7 linked regions of the Homo sapiens genome follow. The protein of the gene in region 1 interacts with the protein of each later gene in a pairwise test. Each region holds a gene or a part of one and is shown in the gene's direction. Other genes may lie near its edges. The genes, in order: PRKAR1A, PDE4DIP, AKAP19, CSTPP1, DTX1, PLEKHF2 and SPART.

What was found.
Region 2: the proteins of PRKAR1A (region 1) and PDE4DIP interact in a two-hybrid assay, tested with the Homo sapiens proteins (one study listed by IntAct).
Region 3: the proteins of PRKAR1A (region 1) and AKAP19 interact in binary tests that used the Homo sapiens proteins (3 or more experiments, as listed by UniProt).
Region 4: the proteins of PRKAR1A (region 1) and CSTPP1 interact in binary tests that used the Homo sapiens proteins (3 or more experiments, as listed by UniProt).
Region 5: the proteins of PRKAR1A (region 1) and DTX1 interact in binary tests that used the Homo sapiens proteins (3 or more experiments, as listed by UniProt).
Region 6: the proteins of PRKAR1A (region 1) and PLEKHF2 interact in binary tests that used the Homo sapiens proteins (3 or more experiments, as listed by UniProt).
Region 7: the proteins of PRKAR1A (region 1) and SPART interact in binary tests that used the Homo sapiens proteins (3 or more experiments, as listed by UniProt).

What each region holds. Positions count from the first base shown.
Region 1 is NC_000017.11:68,515,430-68,518,929, forward strand, and holds part of PRKAR1A (cAMP-dependent protein kinase type I-alpha regulatory subunit), read left to right. Parts: coding exon 1-147; intron 148-3,500. UniProt on the Homo sapiens protein: Regulatory subunit of the cAMP-dependent protein kinases involved in cAMP signaling in cells.
Region 2 is NC_000001.11:149,029,428-149,033,516, forward strand, and holds the end of PDE4DIP (myomegalin), read left to right. Parts: intron 1-359; coding exon 360-498; intron 499-804; coding exon 805-851; intron 852-1,745; coding exon of another isoform or gene 1,746-1,797; intron 1,798-2,516; coding exon 2,517-2,558; coding exon of another isoform or gene 2,559-2,662; 3' UTR 2,663-3,589; downstream 3,590-4,089. UniProt on the Homo sapiens protein: Functions as an anchor sequestering components of the cAMP-dependent pathway to Golgi and/or centrosomes.
Region 3 is NC_000002.12:190,187,363-190,190,862, forward strand, and holds part of AKAP19 (small membrane A-kinase anchor protein), read left to right. Parts: intron 1-2,372; exon of another isoform or gene 2,373-3,500.
Region 4 is NC_000011.10:46,985,261-46,988,760, forward strand, and holds part of CSTPP1 (centriolar satellite-associated tubulin polyglutamylase complex regulator 1), read left to right. Parts: intron 1-1,947; coding exon 1,948-2,050; intron 2,051-3,500. UniProt on the Homo sapiens protein: Regulator of the tubulin polyglutamylase complex (TPGC) that controls cytoskeletal organization, nuclear shape, and cilium disassembly by balancing microtubule and actin assembly.
Region 5 is NC_000012.12:113,063,230-113,066,729, forward strand, and holds part of DTX1 (E3 ubiquitin-protein ligase DTX1), read left to right. Parts: intron 1-3,500. UniProt on the Homo sapiens protein: Functions as a ubiquitin ligase protein in vivo, mediating ubiquitination and promoting degradation of MEKK1, suggesting that it may regulate the Notch pathway via some ubiquitin ligase activity.
Region 6 is NC_000008.11:95,136,785-95,140,284, forward strand, and holds part of PLEKHF2 (pleckstrin homology domain-containing family F member 2), read left to right. Parts: intron 1-3,500. UniProt on the Homo sapiens protein: May play a role in early endosome fusion upstream of RAB5, hence regulating receptor trafficking and fluid-phase transport. Enhances cellular sensitivity to TNF-induced apoptosis.
Region 7 is NC_000013.11:36,311,895-36,315,394, reverse strand, and holds part of SPART (spartin), read left to right. Parts: intron 1-973; coding exon 974-1,168; intron 1,169-1,312; exon of another isoform or gene 1,313-1,427; intron 1,428-2,917; coding exon 2,918-3,076; intron 3,077-3,159; coding exon 3,160-3,250; intron 3,251-3,500. UniProt on the Homo sapiens protein: Lipophagy receptor that plays an important role in lipid droplet (LD) turnover in motor neurons.

The sequences.
Region 1 (3,500 bases):
GAGGCACGCAGCCTTCGAGAATGTGAGCTCTACGTCCAGAAGCATAACATTCAAGCGCTGCTCAAAGATTCTATTGTGCAGTTGTGCACTGCTCGACCTGAGAGACCCATGGCATTCCTCAGGGAATACTTTGAGAGGTTGGAGAAGGTAAAAATAAATGTGGGGAGATGATGAGGTGATTGTGACAGTTGTTACATTTAATAACTGGAATGTTACTAATTTGTATTTTTTGGAAGAAAAGGAATCTGACTAAATAAAAAGTCTAAAACAATTTCAAATAAGAAATACAGTTAAGGCATTTGTAGTAATTTAAAAATTCTTAATTAGTAGAATTTATCAGAAAAATGAACCTGTATGCTAACTGTACTTGGCTAATAAAGGGTTTCCAAACAATTCTTTGTAACTTTTTAAATTAGTGCGTAGAACTATAACAGATAAAACTGATCAGAACTAGTATAGCAGTTCTATGAATAAGAAATTCTATAGTTCTTAAAGGCAGTTAATGCTCCTCCCGTTTTGAACAAAGCAAGTAAGCGTAGTAAATCTTATCCCACTTTTAAAACTAGTGTAATGAAACATGAATCTAGCTTGTGACTGATATATCAGAAATTTTCAATTAGATTCGGTCTATTTTAGTATAGAGTATATCTGATAAATTACTGTAGAGATATTGATATTGATGTTCCTCAAAAATTTTACTCCATTTTATTGGTCAGGACTTGTTGCGCCTTGAAAAAAATTAATCCAATTTTTATTCTTTTTTGCTCTTCCTCCTTGCTTGTATGTCATTGTGACCTACGTATATGGCATATGTTTTTCTAAGCAAAGTGATAATTTTACATCAGGGATAATTGAAGCAAATGAATGCTTCAATTCATCTCCCTCAAGAAACGATGAATGAAAAAGTCTGGGTTACCAAATATTTTGAATAGTTTATGTGATTCGCTTCTGTAAATCAGTGAGAGAAACTTACTGATTTTCTTGTGCATGTGGAAGTTATGAGGTGGTTCATAATGATTATGAATTAATTGAAATGAATCATATACCAAAAGAAATGATTCATATACCAAAAGAAATGAATCATTTCTTTTGGTATATGATTATCTAATTGTATAATAGAAATAATTTGCTTTATTTTCCATTGGTTTTTATAGTTTCTTATAATCAGTATAGTTTATTAGTAAAAGAATCTGTACTAAGCTTTAAAAAGTATTTGGGTAGCTCATTGATCAGGTATTTTCTATTTTCTTTAAAAACTGATTGTTAAAATTTGTATTTAGTACCATGATCAGAATAATTAAAAAAAAAACAAAAACAACTAGTCACTGTGAATGTTGCTTTGCTGTCTTGGAATTATAGTAGATATTCTGGCTTTCTCTTATTTATGCAATTTCCAAATCATGGAAGTATTGTAGAGCCAGGTCATAGATGTAGCTTGTTTTGAAGTCAAGTGCATTCCTGGAGATCCGGTTTTGAAATGGGTCACTGTAAGGTGATCCCTCTTCTTTGGACATCAATAGAAACCATCAAATGAGAGGATTAAGTTGGTGAGACATTAAGTGTGTATCTTTTTATAGGGAGTGTTGAATGTGTGATGCTAGTTTCAAAGCTTGTAGTTGCCACAGTACTGTTTAAAGACTAACAAAGGTGGAAAGCAATAAATAATTATTAAAATGGTTTCTTTGCAGATGGAATTTTTAGATTTAATGTGTTTCAGCTTCTTTAACTTTTAATAATTAAAGTCACAGTTCAACATGGTTTTTGCTGTAATTCAAGGGTCTTTGTTCACATGTATACATTCCTTCCAGGGTTGAATATAGATACCTGGACCTTTAAGTAATTAGATTTTCAACTTGTTAGTGGGTCATAGTTCTGTGTATTAGGTGTTAATTTGTATGTTAGTCTATTAGTCCGTTGTCATGCTGCTAATAAAGACATACCGAGGCTGGGTAATTCATAAAGGAAAGAGGTTTAATTGACTCACAATTCAGCATGGCTGGGGAGGCCTCAGGAAACTTACAATCATGGCAGAAGGAGAAGCAAACCCATCCTCTTCACATGGCAGCAGCAAGGAGAAGTACAGAGCAAAATGGGAAAAGTCCCTTATGAAACCGTCAGCTATCGTGAGGACTCACTCACTATCATGATAACAGCATGAGGGTAACCCCCCTGCCATGATTAAGTTACCTCCCACCAGGTCCCTCTCAGGGCACATAGGGATTATGGGAACTGCAATTCAAGATGAGATTTGGGTGTGGACACAGCCAAACCATATCATTCCACCTCTGGCCCCTCCCAGATCTCATGTTTTCACATTTTGAAACACAGTCATGCCTTTCCAACAGTCCCTCAGAGTCTTAACTCATTCCAGCATTAACTCAAAAGTTCAAGTCCAAAGTCTCATCTGAGGCAAGGCAAGTCCCTTCCACCTATGAGCCTGTAAAATCAGAAGCAAGTTAGTTACTTCCTGGGGTCATTGGGTAGATAACACCCATTCCAAATGGGAGAACTTGGTCAAAACAAGGGGAGTATAGACCCCGTGCAAATCCGAAATCCAACGAGGCAGTAATTAAATCTTAAAGTTGCAAAAGGATCTCCTTTGACTCCATGTCTCACATTCAGGGCACACTGATGCAAGAGGTGGGCTCCCGTGGCCTTGGGCAGCTCCGCCCCTGTGGCTTTGCAGGGTACAGCCCCCCTCCTGGCTGCTTCCATGGGCAGGCATTGAGAGTCTGTTGCTTTTCCAGGTGCATGGTGCAATCTGTTGGTGGATCTACCATTCTGGAGTCTGGAGGATAGTGGCCCTCTTCTCGTAGTTCCATTAGGCAGTGCTGCAGTGGGGACTCGGTGTGGGGGCTCCAAACGACCCCACATTTCCCTTCCGCACTGCCCTAGCAGAGGTTCTCCAGGAGGGCCACGCCCCTGCAGCAAACTTCTGTCTGGGCATCCAGGCATTTCTGTACATCTTCTGAAATCTAGGGGGAGGTTCCCAAACCTCAGTTCTTGACTTCTGTGCACCCACAGGCCCAGCACCACTTGTAAGCCACCAGGGCTTGGGGCTTGCACTCTCTGAAGTAATGGCCAGAGCTGTACCTTTTAGCCAAGACTGGAGCTGAAGCAGCTGGAACGCAGGGTACCATGTCCTGAGGCTGCATAGTACAGGAGCCCCAGGGCATGGCCTAGGAAACCATTTTCCCCTCCTAGGCCTCTGGGCCTATGATGGGAGGGGCTGTCCTGAAGGTCTGTGACATGCCCTGGAGACATTTTCCCCATTGTCTTGGTGATTAACATTTGGCTCCTTGTTACTTATGTGAATTTCTGCGGCAGGCTTGAATTTCTCCCCAGAAAATGGGATTTTCTTTTCTATTGCTTTGTCAGGCTGCAAATTTTTCAAGCTCTGCTTCCTCTTGAATGCTTTCCTGCTTAGAAATTTCTTCCACCGGATACCCTAAATCATTTCTCTCAAGTTCAAAGTTCCACAGATTTCTAGGGCAGGGCCA
Region 2 (4,089 bases), on another chromosome or scaffold:
CACTTCTGAACTCTCAATCTTACCTGTGAAGGGAGAGTGACAGAACTGATATCAGGACTAAAGCAAGGTCCTCTTCAGAGTTGGGAGTTTGATACCAGCCTGAGGCGAGGTTCTCTTAAGCTACAGGTGTGTAGGCCTGTGCTAGTCTGCATGGGGAATTCCAGAGTCTCATTATTCCTGCCTAATGGCCTCATCCTGAACTGTCCTCAGCTGGAGGTATCCGAGGCTGTGAAGGAGGAAATCCAGTTCAAGAGAGTTGAGAAGACTGTAGAATCCTTCTTTGAATTGGAAAGAGCCACAAAGCACAGGGTGCTTTAGGCCTTCTGCCTGGTCAGTAAGAGTCTGTTCCTCTTATCCAGGGAGAATCAACAGAAAGGGAACTTCTGGAACTGAGAACCAAAGTATCCAAACAGGAGCGACTCCTTCAGAGCACAACTGAGCATCTGAAGAACGCCAACCAGCAGAAGGAGAGCATGGAGCAGTTCATCGTCAGCCAGCGTAGGTTCCCTGAGAGGGAATGGGGGAAGAAACAGGCAGTCTTCCCGATGCCCCACTTGTGCTGCAGATGAGCAGTGACCAGGGGGGCTTGGGGATGTTGGGAGTTGAGACTGATTTGATGTCCCCAAACCTCCTGTACCAGGAGCAATTGTGGCTGCAGAGGGAGGGGAGGACAGGGGGTGGATAGAAGGAGACTCCAAGCTGAATAGCCAGAAAGAAATAAATGCTTTAGAATTCTCATGCTAAGCAAGTAGGGTTAATTTCTGCTGGTGGTTTCTACTCTGTGGTGCTCTTTTGTTGTTTCAGTAACCAGAACACATGATGTTTTAAAGAAGGCAAGGACTAACTTAGAGGTAAGGAAACTACTGCACCAGTCAGAGGCACCAAGCCTGTCCCCCACCCATCACCATCCGTTAGCAGATCTTGTAGGTGACCCTTGGCCTGCTTTGGCCTTCCAGGAGAAGACTTGGGGTCCACTTGCAAGATCACAGGTCCTCAGTGAGCATCCTGCTAGTTTCTGTCCCCATCACCCTCCCACCCCGTCAGCTCCTGCCCCTGTATCTTGGTTCACTCTCACATTGTCATCATCTCTCCTTTTTACTCCAATTTTTCTTCTTTGAGGCCAAGTTCAGAGACTGGAGAAATGCAATTCAGCTGACTCTTGAAGTCATTAGACATTCGGGAGTCTGCCTCTGAATGAGCTTCTAGTAGAGGGATCTTGAGGCCAGTTATGTGTTCTACTCTTCATGAAAAAGTAAAAGCAATTTGCAACCTAATAAACTGATTTCACTGCACATTCCCGGGTTAAGAACAGCAATTTGATTTTGCTATATCTTTAAGTAACATGACAAAAGAGATCTGTTGGGTCTCATTGGTCTAAAAGCGAATTTGTTAATAAATAACAACTGAACCTTCAGGGAAAAAATGTTATATATGTACCAGACATTATCTACATTTACTTAAAACACTAAGTGTTAATCATTCCCTAGGAAGTGCTTTGAAGAAAAACTTGAGGTATATGAAATGGTTAAAAATCAGAAACTAAACCTTTTAACATGGACATCAAAGCTTTGCCATAAGCAATTCAGCATATTCCTAGAAATGTTTCTAATCCATAACCTGAGAGAATGTTGATCTCCATAGTGTGAAAATGACTTGGGCCAGTTTAACTTGCTCTTTTTTTTATTTTTTCACTAATTCCCTTTTGTTTTTCTCTGATAATTCTTCTCTTTCCTGAGCCTCTTTAGAGCAGCACTTACAGGATTGCCTCTGTAAAGCCTTATTCCTGTCCCAGAAAAGGTAATCCAAAAAGTCTCTAGTATCCACTAAAAGGTAACCCAAAAATCTCTAGTATCCACTGGCTTTCTCCAGTGTGGAAGCTTTCCCCTCCACCTCCCATAGATCACTGGAAAGGACCCGAGGCCTCGGTTCTAATCCCTGGCTTATCACTAACTGCTGTGTGGCTTTGGCTTGTCCCTTAGTCTCTGTGAGACTGCTGCACCCTCATCTGTCAAAGATGGAACTGGACTTAGTTGAGCTCTGAGGTCCCTGTGGACTTGGCCCCTCCACACCCTCATTATGGCAACTGGACATAAACTTAACAGAGGGCTTCCCAGCAAAATGTCCTCTTCTTCCTACAAACAGGCTGTTTCTATATGTGCATGTTTCATGCTAAGCACTTCTTTCTTGGGTGGACATGGCAAAGGCCTCTTTCTGCTGAGACAAAGTGATTTGGAGAGTCACCTGGCCCCTGAAGGGGGAGTGGTAGGATCCAGCCACCCAGTGTGCAGTGAATTGGAGCAGGGATCTCAGCACACAGGGAGGTGGGGAGGCTCCCCCTAACCTCGGGCACCTGTTGCTCCTCCAGACTGCAGCGCATGCTCTTAGCTCATCCTCTTAACTGGCTCTCACCGTGCTCCTGGCTTTGGTCACCACGTAGCTCTCACTCCAGCTTCAGGTAGCCATCAGTAGGGCCTGGCAATATACACTGATTTGGTTTGTTTTATGTTTGTCTGCAGGTGAAATCCCTAAGGGCTCTGCCATGTACTCCAGCCTTGTGACCCTTGCCTTCCAGGAACCATGCAAGAAGCGCAGCCACCAGAAGTCCTTAAAACAGCAGGAAAGGTGGGCCTGTCCCCCTTTTGTGCAGCTACCTATCTGCTGAGGAGCATCTGGGCCTCATTCCTCCAAGTCCACGGGAGGGTCCAGAAGAGGGAGTCAGAGATGTATCCTGGTGGAGCTGGGAGAAAGGCAGAAAGCCTTTCTGACGGCTATGGAATACGATTAGCCAAGGTCCACTTGGCCCAGCACTAAGAAAAAGATGCGTAGTTTGCACAGAAGGTTTTGTGATCCTGCCTCTCAACAGCCCCAGCAGCTTGGGAACTAGCAAGAGCACATTTCTTGCCTCATCAGCTGTCCTGAGATGGAAAACTCAGTGAATATAGGACCCTGATTCCGATGAAAGGGGCACGTGGTCCCAATGCTGGAGCTCCTCTGGCAGGTTCTAAAAGCACACTACTGAGCAGCGGTGCCCTGCCGGACACTGCTGGCGGGGGCTCAGTGAGCACTACTCACAGATCCACACCTGACCCTGTTGGGTCGAGTCAGGCTGGGCCTTGGTCTGCACTGTAGCACCTGTGTTCTTTGAGTTCACATCATGAATGTGGTGACTTCCCAGATACCATCTCAGGCTTAACCTAGCACATCCTATTTCTTTTCTTCTATGATATCCAAATTGGACTGACCTCACTTCAAAGTTGCTGTCCCATTTTGTCACCCTATCTTATCTCGGGGAAATTGCAGACTGATGGCCAGACCAACTCTGTTGAAATTCTTGCATAGAGCAAACCTGTGCTCATTTTTAAGTGGCATGGGAGAGGCCCCAAGCCTAGTAAAGCCTAGTCTGTGTCTTCACAGTGCTGGTAGAATGTGTTTGTGTGTATAAATATATGATATAGATTTATATATGTTGCTAACGCCATATATTGAAGGCCAACATAACTGGTGGACAGGGTGGGTGACAGAAAATGAAAGTCTTTTTGGTGATTGTTAAAGCAAAATGTGTATAAAGAAATAAATAGTTTTTCTTTCACTGCTTTGTTTCCCATTTCTGCACCAATCCCTTGACAGTATAAAGAACTGGAAAGAGAAAATGGGAAAGACAAACTGTGTTTAAGAAGCATATAGTCTAATGCTTGAACTCTAACTTTAAAAGATTAAGGTTTTCCTTCTTTGTCATTTTGTAAGAATCCCCAGTCTGAAAATATGAAAGAATGGTTCTTAAACTTGGTGTGCCTGAGAAGCAGCTGTGGAGATTATAGGAGCTACCTCCTGGTCTCCAATCCCAGGAGATTTAGTTGGTGTGAGCCCTAGAATCTGCATTTTTTTAATATAAGCACCCCAGGTGATTCCATTACATGTGGGCTTCAGATCACAGTTTAAAAAACAGTGTTCTATAACATTGAATCAAAACTAAAACTACATTTAAGAACCTTGAATCAAAAAGTATGTCATTCCATAAACATTGATATAAAAATTTTAAAATATTCCTTGGGAAAAGTTCTTAGCTACATGCTTTTGATTCCCAAGATT
Region 3 (3,500 bases), on another chromosome or scaffold:
GGGGAGTTAGCAGCCTATTCGTTTACACAGCAGATTTTAGAAGTTACTTTTTTTTTTTTTTTTTGCTGGTTTTGTGTTTGGGTCCAACTCATGTCCAAATTATGGCCTTTTTGTGATACCTTCCACTGGCATATTCCCAAGGAATTTACTCCTTTTGATGACACTGCACCCAGAATGGAGGAACACAGCTACAAAATGAACTATAAAGAAGGGCTAGGCAGGCATGGTGGCTCACACCTATCATCCCAGCACTTTGAGAGGCCAAGGCAGAAGGATCACTTGACGCCAGGAGTTCACAACCAGCCTGGGCAATATGGCTGTCTCTACAAACAATATAAAAAATAACGTGGGCATGGTGGCACGTGCCTATAGTCGCAGGTACTCAGGAGGCTGAAGCCAGAGAATAGTTTGAACCCAGGAGTTCGAGGCTGCTGTGAGCCACAACTGGCCACTGTACTCCAGCCCAGGCGATGGACTGAGACCCTGGCTCTAGGAGAAAAAAGGTGGGTAGCTGCAGTAAATCACATTTTTTCTTTGACGGACCCAACAGAAGGCCCAGTTGTTGCTAGATCTCTTCCTGAGGATAGTGTCAGGGCTCATTCTATATTTTTAGAGCTTTGAGCCTTCAAATAACATTGAAACATGTAAAGGGGCTTTCTTTTCCTCATGTATGACTGTCATGTGTATATATGTGTCTGTGCATTGTGATTTGAGGGGTAGGAGACAGAGGGAGAGGGAGTGGTGGGTGGAAGGGCACTGTTAGATTTTAATACTTATAGCCTGAATAAATTATATTCTCTTTCTCCTTTTGATTTTGTTAATTTTGGAAGCACTTACATTCTATGGGCGCAGGTTCTAAACACATAGTAGACACTCAATATAGACTGGTTGGATGGTTAAGGGATGCTCTGATAGTTCTTTTGTGTATCTTGAGAACTAAGGTATAAAAGATTGATTTAAATATTTTTGAGAAACTGTGTTTTTTAAACATTTTATATTTCTGTAATTAGCCAGTTAAAATGACAAGAAGGCCAAAACACTTCCTGGTTGATATGCAGCATTTAATGTATCACACCTTCAACTGATGACCATAGTCACTTCCCAACCTGACAAATGAATAACAGACTAAAAATTAATTCAGGACAGCTGATCACACCTGCTATCTTAAGGCTAATCATAGCTGCCTAACCACTGACTTGCATTAATGGCTAACATTGTTGAAACTTTATTTCCTCCTTATGAATCAACTATCTTATTAGGAGTGATTGAAATTATACGAAGTTTGTTCTTCACTGGTGTGCAGGCTTATACTGTAATTGCCTTTTAAGTATTTAAAGTACTGTATTGTAACTGCCTTTTAAGTATTTAAAAGTATTTAAACAGCTGCTATTATGAACAGTAGATGCTTCACATGAACTTTTTTTTCCCTCTTGGCTCTTACTTTAAGGATGATGCTTTTTTATTCATGATAAATCTTGAGGCTTCTGTGGGATGGAAACTATAGCATGAAAATCTGATTAACAAATATGTGGGGGCAGTTTACTAATCCATTCAATTAGGGCAACTGCACCTTCTCAGCATGCCATGAGCAATTCCATTAGATAGCTAGTTACTGGACCAGATGATTACCTAATTACATGAATATATCAGTGTCATTTTTCCCAACACAGGACTTGAAGGCCAGATTTGAGAACTAGTCCTGGGGTAGTAGTACCCAGAGACCTGTTTGGGAGACTGGGAAGGTCTGGGCCATCACGTTCTTGCTGATAGCCCAGAGATCAGGTCAAGGACAGGGGCAATGAGAAGAAAGAAACAGAGACCCTGGGAAGGAGCTATCTTGGTCTTTACCGGCAAGAATTAACTTCAAAGATGGGACAGAGGTTCTATAAGTTCAAGAAAGGGAGAAAGTTAACACTTAAAAACATAGGCTGGATTGGATAAAGTACCGTTGGAGCACTTTTATTCCAAGAAGAAGCTGGAATTCGGAGTGACAGCTCCATTCTTATTTGCCATGTGAACTCTGGGTCAGCAAGTGGAAGAGCCAGACCTATCTGCCTGTTTCATCTATTAGATGGGAAGAGATGATAAACATAACATAAATTAGTAAGCAGATGTGATAAGTAACTGAAGAACAGTTGTTTTCTATCCTTAATAGATACGGCTAAACCAGCTGAAGGTTAACAACATAAATATTTTAATATCTAGGTATTTTTGATGTCCTATACTCTAGAAATATGTGCAAATTAAAGTGTGGTGGGGATGAAGTATTACTAATCTATTTCCTTGGATAAGGTTATATATCCCTCTCTCTACTCTACCCTCCTTAGCTACAAGTTCAGGAACAACACAATAAAGGACAAAAGACTCTCACATCCAATTTCAAATTGGTTTCTCATTTATTGCCATCATTCTAAATCAAAGCACTCTACCTGTTCCCAAAGGAAGTGACAGATAAAGCCCTTGAACTGGCAACTGGAAGAACTAGAAGTAGGCTTTTGCTCTTCGGTAGGCCCAGAAGATTATGACCACTGAGTTGGGCTGGTTTCAGGCCAATGTAGAAAGGAAGCAGCAGGCCTCACACTGGAGTCCTCCAGCACAGGGAGCTGGTCCGCTCTGGATGCTGCCCATAGGCGGTCTTTTTCAGATAAAATACATCAGTCCCCTGGATTTAGGTGCCCCAGAATGTTCTCAAAAACTGTTCTTATATCTTATTAAAGTAAAAATTACAGTGAAATACAGTAAACAGATGTTAAAGGTACAATCTAACATGTTTTAACATATACCTCATGTAACTAACATACCAATTAAGATATAGAATTTTTTAATAGCCTAGAAAGTTATTTCAGGGCCTCTTCCAAACAGTCCTTACTTCTTCCCACCCAAAGGGAATCACTACTATGATTTCTATTCATAGGGTCACTATTGTCCAATCTTGAAATTCATATAAATATGATCCATCTTTTTTATCTGGCTCAACATGTCTGAGATTCATCCATGTGGTTTGACATACCAATAGTTCATCCTTTTTTAATTGTCAAGTTATATTCCATTTTGAGGATATCCCTAATTTGTTTATCCATTTGATTTGCCTACTGATGGACATTTGGGTTGTTTCCAGCTTTGACTATTGTGAATAAAGAGGCTATGGATATTGGTATACAGATTTTTAAAATACCTGTGTTTCCATTTGTCTTAGATAAATATCTAGAAATGAAATGGCTGGTTCACAGGGTAAGTGTGTGGTTAACTTTTTAAGAAACAGCCAAGGAATTCTTTAAAATGGTTGTACCATTTTACATTCCTTCCAGCAATATATGCGTTGCATGTCCTCACCAACACTAAGCACTGGGGTTTTTTAAATTTTAGCAATCTTAGTGTGGGTAATTATATTGTGGTTTTAAAAAATACCTTTTTAAAATTTTTAACATACAGTAAAGCTGACTTCATTTTGGTGAACAAGTCTATGAATTTTAACGCATGTTTAGATTTGTTACAGCCAC
Region 4 (3,500 bases), on another chromosome or scaffold:
AAGACTTTTGGGCTCAGGTTGGCAGGTAAACTTACTTGTTTTATGAGCTTCACTAGACTACCAGGACTTCAGAAATAGTTTTTTGAAATACCAATATTTATAAATTTTAGGTAATTCCATCATATTTTCCTGAGGAATGAAACTGTGAAAGAAGTAAATGTCTACTTTGGCAGCAACTTCATAGAATTGCTTTTTGGAAGGATATTCATCACTTTGGGGTTTTTTGTTCTCACTGCTCCAGATGAAAGTATTTTTCTGAATTTTTTATGGTAAATGTGGACACTGAATTGGAAGCTTCTATGTAAAGTTTGTCAGGAAACCTCTGTCATACCTAAGGATAAAATTCAGAGAAAGGGAAGAAGTATTTGAGTACCTGACATCTAAGAAGTTCTGGCCTATGTTGTTTACTGAGTAAACTCCCAATAATGCTTTGAGACAGGCTTTTAAGGAAACATGTTATCAATCACGTACTATGTACCAAACACATAGTGGTGTTTTACCTGTATTATCTTATTTATTTCTCATAACCCTATAATGTAAGTACCATTATTATCCCCATTTTACCATGAAGAATAGGCTTGAAGAATAATTTGTTTATGGTCACATAACTAGGAAGTGGCAGAGCTGAGAATGGAGCTCTCAACTCTCTGTAATCCAAAGCCCAGGTTCTTAACCAGTGATTCTTAAACTTAAGAGTACATAAGAAGCATCAGGAGTACTTGTTAAAAATTACTGGGCTGTAGTAAAAAATGTAAGGTCACTAAATCTGGGACAGTGCCAGACTATAAATCTGCGTTTTAAACGGCATCCCAGGGGATTCAGATCAAGAAATTGATTGACCATATTTTGAGAAACATAGTTAAATTATATTGCTTTTCACACTTGATAAAGAAGAAAACAGGTGTAGACTAAGTAACTATCCAAGATTAAGCTACCAAGACAGAGCCATGATTCAAACTCAGGTCTGTCTCACTCTAATACTCATACTTTTTATTATACGCCCATGATTAACTCACACATTTCCAAGTCACAACAAATGCAGAAAACATGACATCTAATAAACCAAGCCAGATAGATTTCATGGTCTTGTTATTTACCAAAGTTAATAACTTATATATACACCAGTACGAAAATTTTCATGGTCCTTAAACCTTTCCAGTGACTTTTTTTTTTTTTTTCTAATTTAAATTAACTGAGTTTTCTTTTTTTTCTGTTCTGAAATGAAGTCTGGCTCTGTCGCCCAGGCTGGAGTGCAATGGCATGATCTTGGCTCACTGCAACCTCCACCTCCCAGGTTCAAGCAATTCCCCTGCCGCAGCTTCCTGAGTAGCTGGGATTACTAGCTACTCAGGAAGTAGCCACTGCATCTGGCTAATTTTTGTATTATTGGTAGAGACAGGTTTTCACCATGTTGCCAAGCTGGTCTCGAACTCCTGACCTCAAGTGATCCACCCGCCTCAGCCTCCCAAAATGCTGGGATTACAGGCCTGAGCCACTGTGCCTGGCCAGAGTTTTCTTTACAATCATACCATCCATGCTTCAAGCATGGAATTACTAACTCCCTGGGATAAGTTTCTGATGCAGAAATGGAAAAGAATAGAAGGAGGTAGAAAGAAAAGAACTTCCAGGTGTATCTGCTGAATGGTGCTAAATCTCCTCTTCAACCCACCCTTGTGATTGAGATGAAGAATGAAGGGTTGATGCTAATACTAACAGCCAGTCAAATGGCAATTGGTCATGTTCACATCATCTCCCAATCTATCCTTTGAGACTATAGCTCAGTTAGGGTCAGCAAGTTTGCTTTGCCTATTCCAGTCCACTGATGAAGTGTCATCAGACAGAGCCAACACCTGGATTGCCTTACACATGACCTCCTACTAGGATTGGGATCATTCTTTTTAAAATCTTTCTCTCATTTTCTCTTTCTCTCTTGCTATTTGATTGCAGCTCAGCGACATGTCCTCACCTACATGGAGGATGCAGTGTGCCAGCTGCTAGAAAACAGGGAAGATATTAGCCAATATGGAATTGCCAGGTTCTTCACTGAATAGTAAGTACATGAATGTTGTACTAATACAGTGAACCCAGAGGAGGCGCTTGGAAGCAGGCAGGATACTTGAGGAACAGAGCAGGACAATGCTGATTAGGTAGTGGCAGTGAATGTTTAGTTTTGGTAGGTTGGTTGTGGGCCGCCCAAACATGTTTTGGAGCATGCCTTTGGTGCAGCTAGTTTGTCCAGTGATGTCTCATGAATAGTTTTGATTACAGTAGCTTAACAACTGCTTGTTTGATCTATTAGATCTATTTCTGTAGGTTTCTCTTTTAACTTTCTCCTTTATTCAAAATATTCACTTTGATTTCCTTTCGCTGATGTTCATCTAGCCTGTTTTTTTTCATGGCTGGCTTTTCTCATGGAATCTAGGCTAATGTTCCTCTGCAGTTTTCTTTCTACAGGATGCTGTGCCAATCACTTAATGATTTAAGTGTATTTCTAATCAGCAAAGTGAAGAGACAACCCACAGAATGGGAGAAAGTATTTGCAAACTACCCATCTGACAAGGGATTAATAACCAGAATATATAAGGAGCTCAAATATCTCTATAGGAAAACATCCAATAATCCCATCAAAAAATGGACAAAAGATGTGCATAGACACTTCTCAAAACAAGACATACAAATGGCAAACAGGCATAAGCAAAGGTGCTCAACATCATTGATCATCAGAGAAATGCAAATCAAAACTACAATGAGATAACATCTCACCCCAGTTACAATGGCTTGTATCCTAAAGACAGGCAATAACAAATGCTGGCGAGGATGTGGAGAAAGGGAACCCTTCTACACTGTTGATGGGGATGTAAATTAGTATAACCACTGTGGAGAACAGTTTGGAGGTTCCTCAAAAAACTAGGAATAGGGCTGCCATATGATCCAGCAATTCAACTGCTGGGTATATACCCAAAAGAAAGGAAATTAGTGTATCGAATAAATATCAGTACTCCTATGTTTGTTACAGCACTGTTTAGAGTACTAAGATTTGGAAGCAATCTAAGTGTCCATCAACAGATGAATGGGTAAAGAAAATGTGGTACATATACACAATGGAGTATTATTTGGCCCTAAGAAAGAATGAGATCCTGTCATTTGCAACAACATGAATGGAACTGAAGATCATTATGTTAAGTGAAATAAGCCAGGCACAGAAAGACAAACATTGGATGTTCTCACTTGTTTGTGGGATGTAAAAATCAAAACAATTAAACTCATGGACAAAGAGAATAGAAGGATGGTTACCAGAGATTGGGAAGGGTAGCAGGGGGCTGGGGGAAGAGGTGGGGATGGTTGATGGTTACAAAAAAGAAAAAAAAGAATGAAAAAGACCTGCTATTTGATAGCACAACAGGGTGACTCTAGTCAATGATAACTTAATTGTTCATTTTAAAATAACTCAAAGGGTACATTTAGATTGTTTGTAACACAAAGGAAAAATGCTTGATGGG
Region 5 (3,500 bases), on another chromosome or scaffold:
GGTCTTGGGGTGAGGGGGTTGGCTGCCACTGGCAGTCGGGGAAAGGTTTGAGAATGGCTTTCTGCTCCCAGAGAAGAAGCCACATCTTCCCTGGGGGGTCATTTACATCCCCTGCCACTGGGACAGCCGCCTCCGAGGGCCTCACCCAGACCCTGAATTTCCCACCCAGTTCACACAGCTGGACAGAGGTGTAACTCAGCCACTTCCGCAGAAGCTCCCAGCTCGCTCCCTGGCCTCATATGACTGGAGCTGGGGAGGGGCACCTATCTGCCTGGTATCTCCCATGTCGCTCTCCATGTGCTGCTGGAGGGGTGCATGGCAGCCTCCTGCCCCTTCTGCTGATGGGATAGCTGAGGCCGAGGGATGCCAGCTGGGGACCATCCAAAGATGCCATACCCGAGGCTGCAAGCCTGGCCTTTTCTGGTGCCCCCAAGCTGGCCAACAGGCTGGAGTGGCAGGTGGTGGCTGGTTCTGGGATCTTCCAGCCTGCCTCCTTCCCTGGAAACCTTGGGCTTCACTCAGCCCTGGTCCCTGCCATGAGAGGAAGCACTATCTGAGGACACTTAGGCTGGAGACCCTTAGGCTGTTACCACCCAGATGGGAGGAGCTTTTCCCATCACCGGGGAAAACACCTCCAGAATTAGACACCAACTGGGGACAGTGAGGCCCAGAGAGGGTGAGTGACTTCCCCAAGGTCACACAGCCTACCAGTCCTAAGCTAGAGCCCAGGCCCCCCAGACAGGCCTTAGGGATAGAAAACAAGGTGACATTTAATGCCAGGGCTGAGAGAACCCCTTCCCCCTTCCCCCTTCTCCCTTGAGAGCGCTCTTGGGGCTTGTTGTCAGGGTCTAGCCCAAGGCAGGGACAGCCTGCACTACCCTGGAGGCCTCCAGGGCTCAGCTCCTGGTTACAGGACCCTTTGGGACCCTCTCTCCAGCCTCCTCACTGGAGACTAGGGCTGGGCCTGATGCCAGGGGCAAGAAAGACTATGTGTAGGGGCAGGGAGCGGCCCATCTCTGGTAGCAGCAGGTCCAGCTAATCCATATGTGGGTGCTCCCCAACCACCAGTCACGCTGTCTGTATTTCTACTATTGCAGACCCATGGTCTCTGGCTGCTTGGCTAACTCCAGAAGCCTGTTTTGAAACTAAATTCATCGCTCGTATTTGGTAGTCATTGGTGGCTTCTCAGTACCAGGTCCTGGGCTGGGTCTTGGGGACTCAGAGAGAAGGGCAAAATCCATTTCAGAGTCTAATCTATCCATTTCAGATCAGTTTCAGAGTCTAGTGAAGGTGAAGGCAAATGCATATCATGGAAATAGCCTTTGAACCCTCTGACTCATAAGGACAACAGATACAGACCTAAAACCCAGCTTGGCCCCTTGCTGGCTGTGTGACCATGGGCAAATTCCTTAACGTCTCTGAGTTTATTTCCTCCTCTGTAAAATGGGGATAAGAATAGTCCCTAGCTGGGAGGGTTGTCATGAGGACATAATGAGATACATAAATGAGATATGTAGATAAAAGCTTGGAGGATACTACTTTGCACGTAGTAAGCACTCATGCTCGAGGAAGAAAAAGATTTAAATGCCTCACTAGGCAGATGCACGGTGCCTTCAGCCATGGGATGTGCATGGTGTATGCCTGGAGCCTCTGAGAGGAGGACTTCCTGGAGGAGGAGTCCTTTGAGAGTGTGTGATTTGGGTAAATAGAATGATAGGAGGAACACTTACAGGTGGAGGAAACAGCAGGGGTCCTTCAGCAGGGTCCTGGAGGAGGGTCTCAGGCCTGGGTGGCAGAGGGAGGCTGTGATGGGAGATAGGGGATGGGTAGAGGAGGCCTCGTGGGGCCCACTGGGGCCTGGCAGGCTGGGCTGCCAGCTGCTGCCCTTTAGCAGCCAGGCCCCGGGGGACTCACAGCCACGCTGCAGGACCAGCCTCATTAATCACGGGCCCTTGGAGCTGGAGCAGGTGGGGCAGGGGCAGCCTCAGGCACTTCCTACAGTCTGTCTGGGTTCCCTTCACCCAGCCAGCGGGTGTCACCCCATTTTACACATAGTAAAGCTGAAGCTCAGAGGGTGGGGAGCCGCCTGCCGACGCTGAGAAGAGACGGGTCTGAGATCAGATCCAGGTCTGCAGCTGGGTGCGCACGGCCCTTCCCAGGCTCGCCCGGGCCACCGAGTACCTTGGACAGCACCATCAACGACCCGCCCGCGCCTTCCGGGCTGGGGGTGGGGATGCCCGGGACAGACCCCCTCGCAGCCCTCTCCCTCTCCTTCTCCTCCCCTCACCCCTTTCTCCTCCTTCTTCCCTCCCTCCTCCTCTCCAGCTTCCTCCCATCCCCCGCCTCATTCTTCCAAAGGAGCTGCGGAGTCTGACCTGGAGAGGAAGGAGGAGATGGAAGCTGTGATGGGAAGCGTGGGGGCTGGAGTAGGGGAGGTGATGCGGAAGTGACAGGTAGCGGGGCTGTGGAGGGGATGGTGAAGAAGGTGGTAAGGAGTGAAGCGTGAGGGGTTGGGAGGGGAGATGATGGAGGGTGTGATGAGAGGGTGACGAGGAGGGGCCAGGACGGGGAGGCCACGGGGAGGCCAAGGGGTTGGGGCAGGACTGGTCACAGTGGCTCCAAGTGCCCATTCAGGCAGTAGGCAATGGGGTTGAGGTCCCTAACTCTCTCTCCAGTGTGATGTTCTTGGTGCATGGGGGTGCCTGGGGTGCTCCCAGGCCTCCGCCCGCCACCTCTGTCTCTCCCTGGGCCTCCATCCTTCCACCTGGCTCTGGAATCACAACCGGTGGTAGCCAGTCCCCAGGACAGCTCCAGTCCCTTAGATAGTCACCCCCATGAGCCCACCCAGCCTCTGGGTTGACACAGACACCCCCAGCAGCCCCTAGCTGCCTCTGGCTGACATCAACTGAGGACATGGGGCCTGGAACCTGGAAACAGCTACCTCGGGGAATGCTGTTGGTGAGGGCCAGGCTCTGGGTTCCCATCCCAGCTGCTTACTAAGAATCATGGGGTGTGTAGGCCGGGTGTGGTGGCTCACATCTATAATCCCAGCACTTTGGGAGGCTAAGGTGAGTGGATCACCTGAGGTCAGGAGTTCGAGACCAGCCTGGCCAACATGGTAAAACCCCCTCTCTACTAAAAATACAAAAATTAGTGGGCATGGTGGTGGGCGCCTGTAATCCCAGCTACTCGGGAGGCCAAGGCAGGAGAATCACTTGAACCCGGGAGGTGGAGGTAGCAGTGAGCTGAGATTGAGCCATTGCACTCCAGCCTGAGTAACAGAGTGAGACTCCGTCTCAAAAAAAAAAAAAAGAATCGTAGTGGGTGGGGAGATTTGTGACCTTAAGTAAACCACACTCCCTCCCTGAGCCTCTGAGCCTCTGTTTCCTCACCTGTAATATGGACCTGATGATAGTACTGAACTTGTGTGATTGTGGTCACTATTCATTCATTCATCAGGAGTTTCATGAGCACCTACTGTGTGCCAGGCACTGTCCGGG
Region 6 (3,500 bases), on another chromosome or scaffold:
ATATTTAAAAGCAATGTATGTGTTGACTTAACTGAATAAAAAATACTTCATGGATACACTTTCACAGTGCTGTTTTAAGTTGGAAAACCTCTCTAGGTTAAGGTGTTTTGTAATTCTATAATGCCTATAGAATTCGGGGTTTATTTCCTGCCCCCACCCAAGATAACTTTCTCCCCTGTCAAACTGTAAACCACAAACTAATGTGCTCAATTTAGGGAGGTCCTGAGAAGAGAATAAAAGGCATTCAAATAGTTGCTGTGAATGCACTGGAAAGAAAGCAAGTTGCATGTAGGATGGACTGGAACAAATAAACCTTGTCCTGACTCAGCTCCTTGCTGGCTTGTGACTCTTGAACAAGCCGCTTCACTTCTGTAAGCTTCACTGGACTCATTTGTGAAATGGGCACAGAAATATTTGCCTCAGTGTTAGCGTGAGGGTCACCCAAGATTCGATGTTTGTGGAAGGGCCTGGAATACGATAGTAGCTATTATTTTAACAAATGAACAGAGTGGCAGTGAATTATATAGAATCATAGAATTTAAAAATTTTTAAAGGGAAGCAGCCTGTAGGAATACCTAGTTCAGTTTTCAGCCTTGGCTGCACATTAAAATCTCCTGAAGAGCTACTTAAAAAGAATATTGCCTGGATCCCACCCCAGGACAAATAAATCAGAATTACTGGGTTTGGGGACAGAACAAAGGTAATTTTGCCTCTTTGTTAAAACATCCCCGATTTTAGTGTTCAGTCAGGTGGAGAACCTTTGATTTAACTCAATTTCCCATCTCCTTTCTTATGCTTTTCATTTTGTAGTTGAGTAAAATGCAGAGGGGTTAGCTGCCAGCCAGATTCCTATCAGTCAGGCTAGAAAGGATGTATTAAATATTTGCAGCTGAGGAAAGTGAAGTGCATAGAGGTTAAGTAAGGGTTACATTCATTTCTGGCCAGAATGGCCACATTTGGAACTACACTTCACTAACTCCGGTGACCCCCACTGCTACTCTACAACAGCAGCCTGCATGTTGTGACCATGTTACTTGTCATCATTCAGAACCACTCTACCTCAGGTCTTAAACCCTGTGGCCAGATGGCGATGCAAGGGTCTGTTTTCTCTTTCTCTTTTCTGTCATAACTGGTTAAGCAGCTTTTTGTCCTTATTGTCACCTCCAGTCCCTCCTAGGCCATTAGTTGTCTTCCCTCTTTTCAACCTTGAACTCTGTAGTTCATGTTCTAACCATGAACTCACTAGACCACATAGTCCCTCCTCTCCTTGACCTTTGCTGGGTGTAACTGGTCAGTTTTCTACCTTTGTCCCTGCCCTACACTCTCCCCCAAAGTCACGCTTTTGGTGATCATTACATACTTGTTTTCTACCTGCTTTATACTAGTTACTTTCTAATCCTTTTCTTATCCCCAAGTTGACTTATTTTCTCTGTTGCTTTTTCACTCCAGTCAGGTTGCTAACCCCAGTCTCGAAACATGTTGAGCAGATGACCTTACTTCCTTCTAAAATGATTAAGATTTTATGATGTGAATTTTCTATTTTCTTCTTTGCACCAACTTCTTCATCTTCCCCCCCCCCCCGCCCCTTTTTCAGAAGTGGAACTATTTTTAATTCTTTGTACTTGTTTCATTTAAACAACAGTTGGGGAAAAAGAAAGATTTTTGTGTTCTTTGCTCACATTTTTATTACTTGTACATATAACTGTATTTTACTTTTTATACTTATATTTTTCTACACATTCTTCTTTGTATTTTCTTCCCAAACTAAAAGGCTTTGTCTATGAGAGAATGTGTTCATTATAAGATAATTAGGCGTATCAAAATATTATTAGTCTAGTGCTTAGAGATAACCACTACTGACTTTTTGGTGCATATCAGCCACTTTTAAATAACAAGTAGGCTTATACTATATGTGCTATTTAGAAACTTTTATTTAATAAAATGCTTTAACAATATTTCACATTAAATATTGTGTTTTCTAAAAAACTGCCTAAAAATTAATGGATGTGCCATAATTTATTTAGTCTCCTATTGTTAAATATTTAGGTTGTTTCCAGCTTTTCTATATTATAGACAAAGCTACAGTGAACTTCATGTGAACAACTTTGTACACTTTTAATTTTTGTATGTATTATTGGAAATAGAATTGTTGTATAAACTTTCTAAAGCATTTCTATTGCCAAAATGGCATTTAGAAAAGTTGTTCCAGTGTATATACAGTATTGTCAAGAATATAAGGGTCCATTTTTACCACATCTTAGGTGAGTAATATATGAATATCATTTTAATTTTTATTTGATTGGGACTGAGTGTCATTTTTTAAATTTACTGGTCATTTTCATTTTTTTAAAATTGACATTTGTTTCTTATTTTTCTGTTGGGATATTTTCCTCTTTTCTTGTGGATTTACAGGAGCCCTTTGCATATTACAAATGTTGGCCGGGTGCGGTGGCTCACACCTGTAATCCCAGCCCTTTGTGAGGCCAAGATGGGCAGGTCAGATTGCTCGAGTCCAGGAGTTTGAGACCAGCCTGGGCAACATGGCAAAACCCCGTCTCTACAAAATACACAAAAATTAGTTGGGCAGGGTGGCATGCCTATAGTCCCAACTACTCAGGAGGCTGAGGTGGGAGGATCGCTTGAGACTGGGAGGTAGAGGTTGCAGTGAGTTGAGATTGTGCCACTGCACTCCAGCCTGGGTGACAAAGCAAGACCCTGTCCTGTCAATCAATCAATAAATGTTGACCCTTTGCCATATTACTTTAATGTTCTTCCCCCAATTATGAAGTTTTAAAAGTTTAGGTAGTAAATTTTTTCTTTTATGATGGCTTTTTGTGATACATTTAACTATTCCTCAGCTAGAAATTTAGGTTTTATTTTTCACTATTAGAGTTAATGCCAGAGGGAAAACTTTTTATGTGCCACACCCCCTCCACCCCCTTTCTCCAGTTTATTTCTCCAGGTTAAATTTTTGTGGGTAAAAATTTCAGATATTTTATTGTTACACATTGCCATTAGTCCTTGATTTTTTTTTTTTTTTCCCATGTGTCCCACTGCTGATTGTGACCTTTTGGCAGGTTATTTAGTCTCTGAGAGTTGTGAAACATATGAGAGCAGGTTGAAAAGGTGCTTTGTGCTCCTTTGTGTCCCGTTCTTTTTTCCCTTAAATTTTCCTCCTGCTTTCTAAACTAGGGGTTCCCCAAAGTTTAGTCCTCTGCTCTCGTTTTTCTTCCAGCATCAGCCAGCATCTCTAGGTGGGTGACTACCAAATCTCTCTGTCCTGGAGCTCCCTGCCCATCCTGGCATCTCTGTCCCGCAGATGTGTTTGTCTTGTGGATGCCCTGGAGGACTTCAAGATAAACATGTCCCAAACTGATTTCTTCTCTCTCCTAAAACAAAGCTAGCATCTGCCCAGTGGCTTACCCTTAAGCCTTTGAAGTCATCTTACAGTCCTTTTTCATCCATGTGTTCAGTTATTTCCTAAATCCTATCTGCTATGC
Region 7 (3,500 bases), on another chromosome or scaffold:
CTTTGAAAGCTCATTGTTAAGTGTTAGCCAAAAAAGAAATATTTTAAATTGAAAGTCTCTGCAGAGTAGGGTAATACTTCTTCCATCTTAGGGGACACTGTTCTTACATGTTTTTTCTTTTCCCATCCCTCTCCCACTCCTTTCCCCACATTTCCACTGGCTGAGGACCTTTTGTCCTCACTAGAGAAGGCCCTTCCATCCCTCTGTTCCTCTGGTGAGCACTTCTGTCATTCAAGCTGCGAGAACATAAGCAAAGCAAAGCAAAGGGCTAGGGCCCACTGTCATGAGAAATGGCCAAATTATCTGGGCCTCACTCTTCTTCTTTTAGATTTTCTCTACTCATGCATTTGAGTGTTCTCATGTTTTTGTCATTCAGGTATGTGTAGCAAGCTAAACGGTGCTGAGATCCAAGAGTTTGGGTTTAGGATTCAGGAAGGAACAGGACCCCCTGACTAAAGCTTTTAGCCTAAAGAAAGTAAGAGTTCTGCCTTGGTGTTTGAGAGGCAGTTTCTTTGGTTTCCATTTTGTGATGTTTCTGTCTTTCTCCCTCAAGATTTCATGGGGAAAAGAGATGCCTGGCCTAAGGCAAAAAGAACAAGAATATCTGGGTTCTTTGGCCAAATTCTATCTTAATGGCACCAAAACTAAAAATTAATACCTAACAGTAATATACTGTGGTAAGTAACATATAGAGATACTGTTTGTGGTCATCTTCAGAAATTATCAGCTGCCACTAAATCTCAGGCCTTCTAGGTACTAGGTAGTGGCAGCATAGAGTAACGCAGAACTGTGTCACTAAGTATTCAGGAAGAAAACTGCAGGTATAAAGTTAGCTTGAAAGTTTATGACATGGCACATTTAGCATCTGAATATCAAACTCCTTTTATTTTTTTCTGGTTGATGTTATTTATTAAAGTGTTCAAAAGCATAATTAGCCCTAATATTGTGCAATTTTAAATTTTCTTTTAAAAAGGTGCTTCCTGGGTGAGTTGGGGTTTAGTCAAAGGTGCTGAGATTACTGGTAAGGCAATCCAGAAAGGTGCTTCTAAACTCCGAGAGCGGATTCAACCAGAAGAAAAACCCGTGGAAGTTAGTCCAGCTGTCACCAAGGGACTTTATATAGCGAAGCAAGCTACAGGAGGAGCAGCAAAAGTCAGTCAGTTCCTGGGTAAAGTAATTCTAGATAACTTTACTTTTTAAAGTTATATTTAAAATAATGTCTTAATCCAGGGTTAATCTGCATGTTCATTTAGATGGTTTAATCTCAAGAATAAAGAATTAGGACAAAGCAGTTTCTCTTTGTTATTCATAGTGAGACCTGCGGACCAGCAACATCACATCGTCCTATCTGGAATCCTTAGAAATGCAGAATTTTAGGGACAGACACACCTACTGATTCAGAATCTGCATTTTCACAAGATCCCTAGGTGATTCTTATTTGCACATTAAAGTTTGAGAAACTGGTTAAAGGGTTGTTCTGATGTGTTGGAGAGGAGAATGTGTGTATCTTTGAAAAAGAGTTCTGAATGTAAAGTCATGTATTGTTTAACGCAGGAGGTAAGTTCTAAGAAATGTGTCATTAGGTGATTTCATCATTGTGTGAACATCATAGCATGTACTCACACAAACCTAAACGTTGCCACTCCACACCTAGGCTATATGATATAGCCTATTGCTCCTAAGTACAAACCTATACACCATGTGACTGTACTGAATACTATAGGAAATTGTAACACAATGGTAAGTATTTGTGCATTTAAACACATCTAAACATAGAAAAGGTGCAGCAAGAATGCAGTATATAAAAGATAAAAAATGGCATAAAAACTGTAGAGAGCACTTACCAGAAGTGTCACTTGCAGGACTGGAAGTTGCTCTGAGTGAGTCACTGAGTGAGTGGTGAGTGAATGTGAAGGCCTAGGACATTACTATACACTATTGTAGACTTTTTAACACTGTACACTTGGGCCACACTAAATTTATTTTAAAAACAAAGTAATTGCACTATGATGTTATGGCGGCTGTGGTGTTACTAGGCAGTGGGACTTAATCAGCTCCATTATAATCTTATGGGACCATGAAATGTCTGAAATGACCAAACCATCATTATGCAGCATGACTGGATGTGAATCCTTGAGTCCTTCTAAGGGATATGACACATTCTTTCAAGGAGAGCAGTTTACTGCTTAGCAGTTGAGGGTCAAGAGGGAGGGATCTGTTGTTTGAGAAAAACTGACTTAGTGATTCTGGTGCCAACCTTCCCAAGCAATGTACTTCTAAATCCTTGCTCTTAGAGAATCACAGCACTGAAATTTGGTGTTTTGAGGTGGGTAGATAGGACCTTAATGGATTACCATTAAATTTAGTAAAATTATCTTTTTTGGTATTTAGTATTTTTTGAATCAGATTTTAGATTGTTTACTTTTATTCACCGAGATAACTGAGATATTTATCAGTAGAAAAATATGAATACGCTAAGCTGGAATAAGCTAAAAGTACCAACCAATCTTGCATTGCAACAGTCAGATAGAAAAGGTGGCTGGTTTTCTCAAGCAGAAGTGCAAGAGCATGTATATCTGAGAGGCAAGGTTATAAACATCAGTAGGCTCTGCAAGCACAGCTTTAAAGCAAACAAAAGCTTTCATTTAAAAAATAACCAGTCTATGCTTCATGCCTGTAGTCCCAGCTACTCAGGAGGCAGAGGCAGGAGGATCACTTGAGCCCAGGAGTACAAGTCAAGGCCAGCCTGGGCAACATAGTGAGACCTCCTCTCTAAGCTTCATATCCTTAAGAAGAAATTGTAACATTATATAGTAAAACAATTTAGATGTTCATTTAAGAATGTTGCAAGATGAGTGGTAAAAATCAAGGGAATAATATATTTTTCCTAAGTTTTCTTTTTTTATGGTCATATTAGTTGATGGAGTTTGCACTGTAGCAAATTGCGTTGGAAAAGAACTAGCTCCACATGTCAAGAAGCATGGAAGCAAACTTGTTCCAGAATCTCTTAAAAAAGACAAAGATGGGAAATCTCCTCTGGATGGTGCTATGGTTGTAGCAGCAAGTAGTGTTCAAGGTAACAAAGGGCCCAGAATTTTAACTATGAAGGTCCGTTTGCTTTGGACTAGATTTACATCGTTTTAAATATTATTTTTACAGGATTTTCAACTGTCTGGCAAGGATTGGAATGTGCAGCTAAATGCATCGTTAACAATGTTTCAGCAGAAACTGTACAAACTGTCAGATACAAGTAAGTTGAATTTTATTTTAATGACTAAATCTCTGTTTTGTTGTTGTTGTTGTTTTTCTGAGAGGGAGTTTCTCTTGTTGCCCAAGCTGGAGTGCAATGGCGCGATCTTAGGTCACTGCAACCTCCACCTCCCAGGTTCAGGCATTTCTCCTGCCTCAGCCTCCCGAGTAGCTGGGATTGCAGGCACACGCCACCATGCCCGGCTAATTTTTTTTTTTTAGTAGAAATGGGGTTTCACCACATTAGCCAG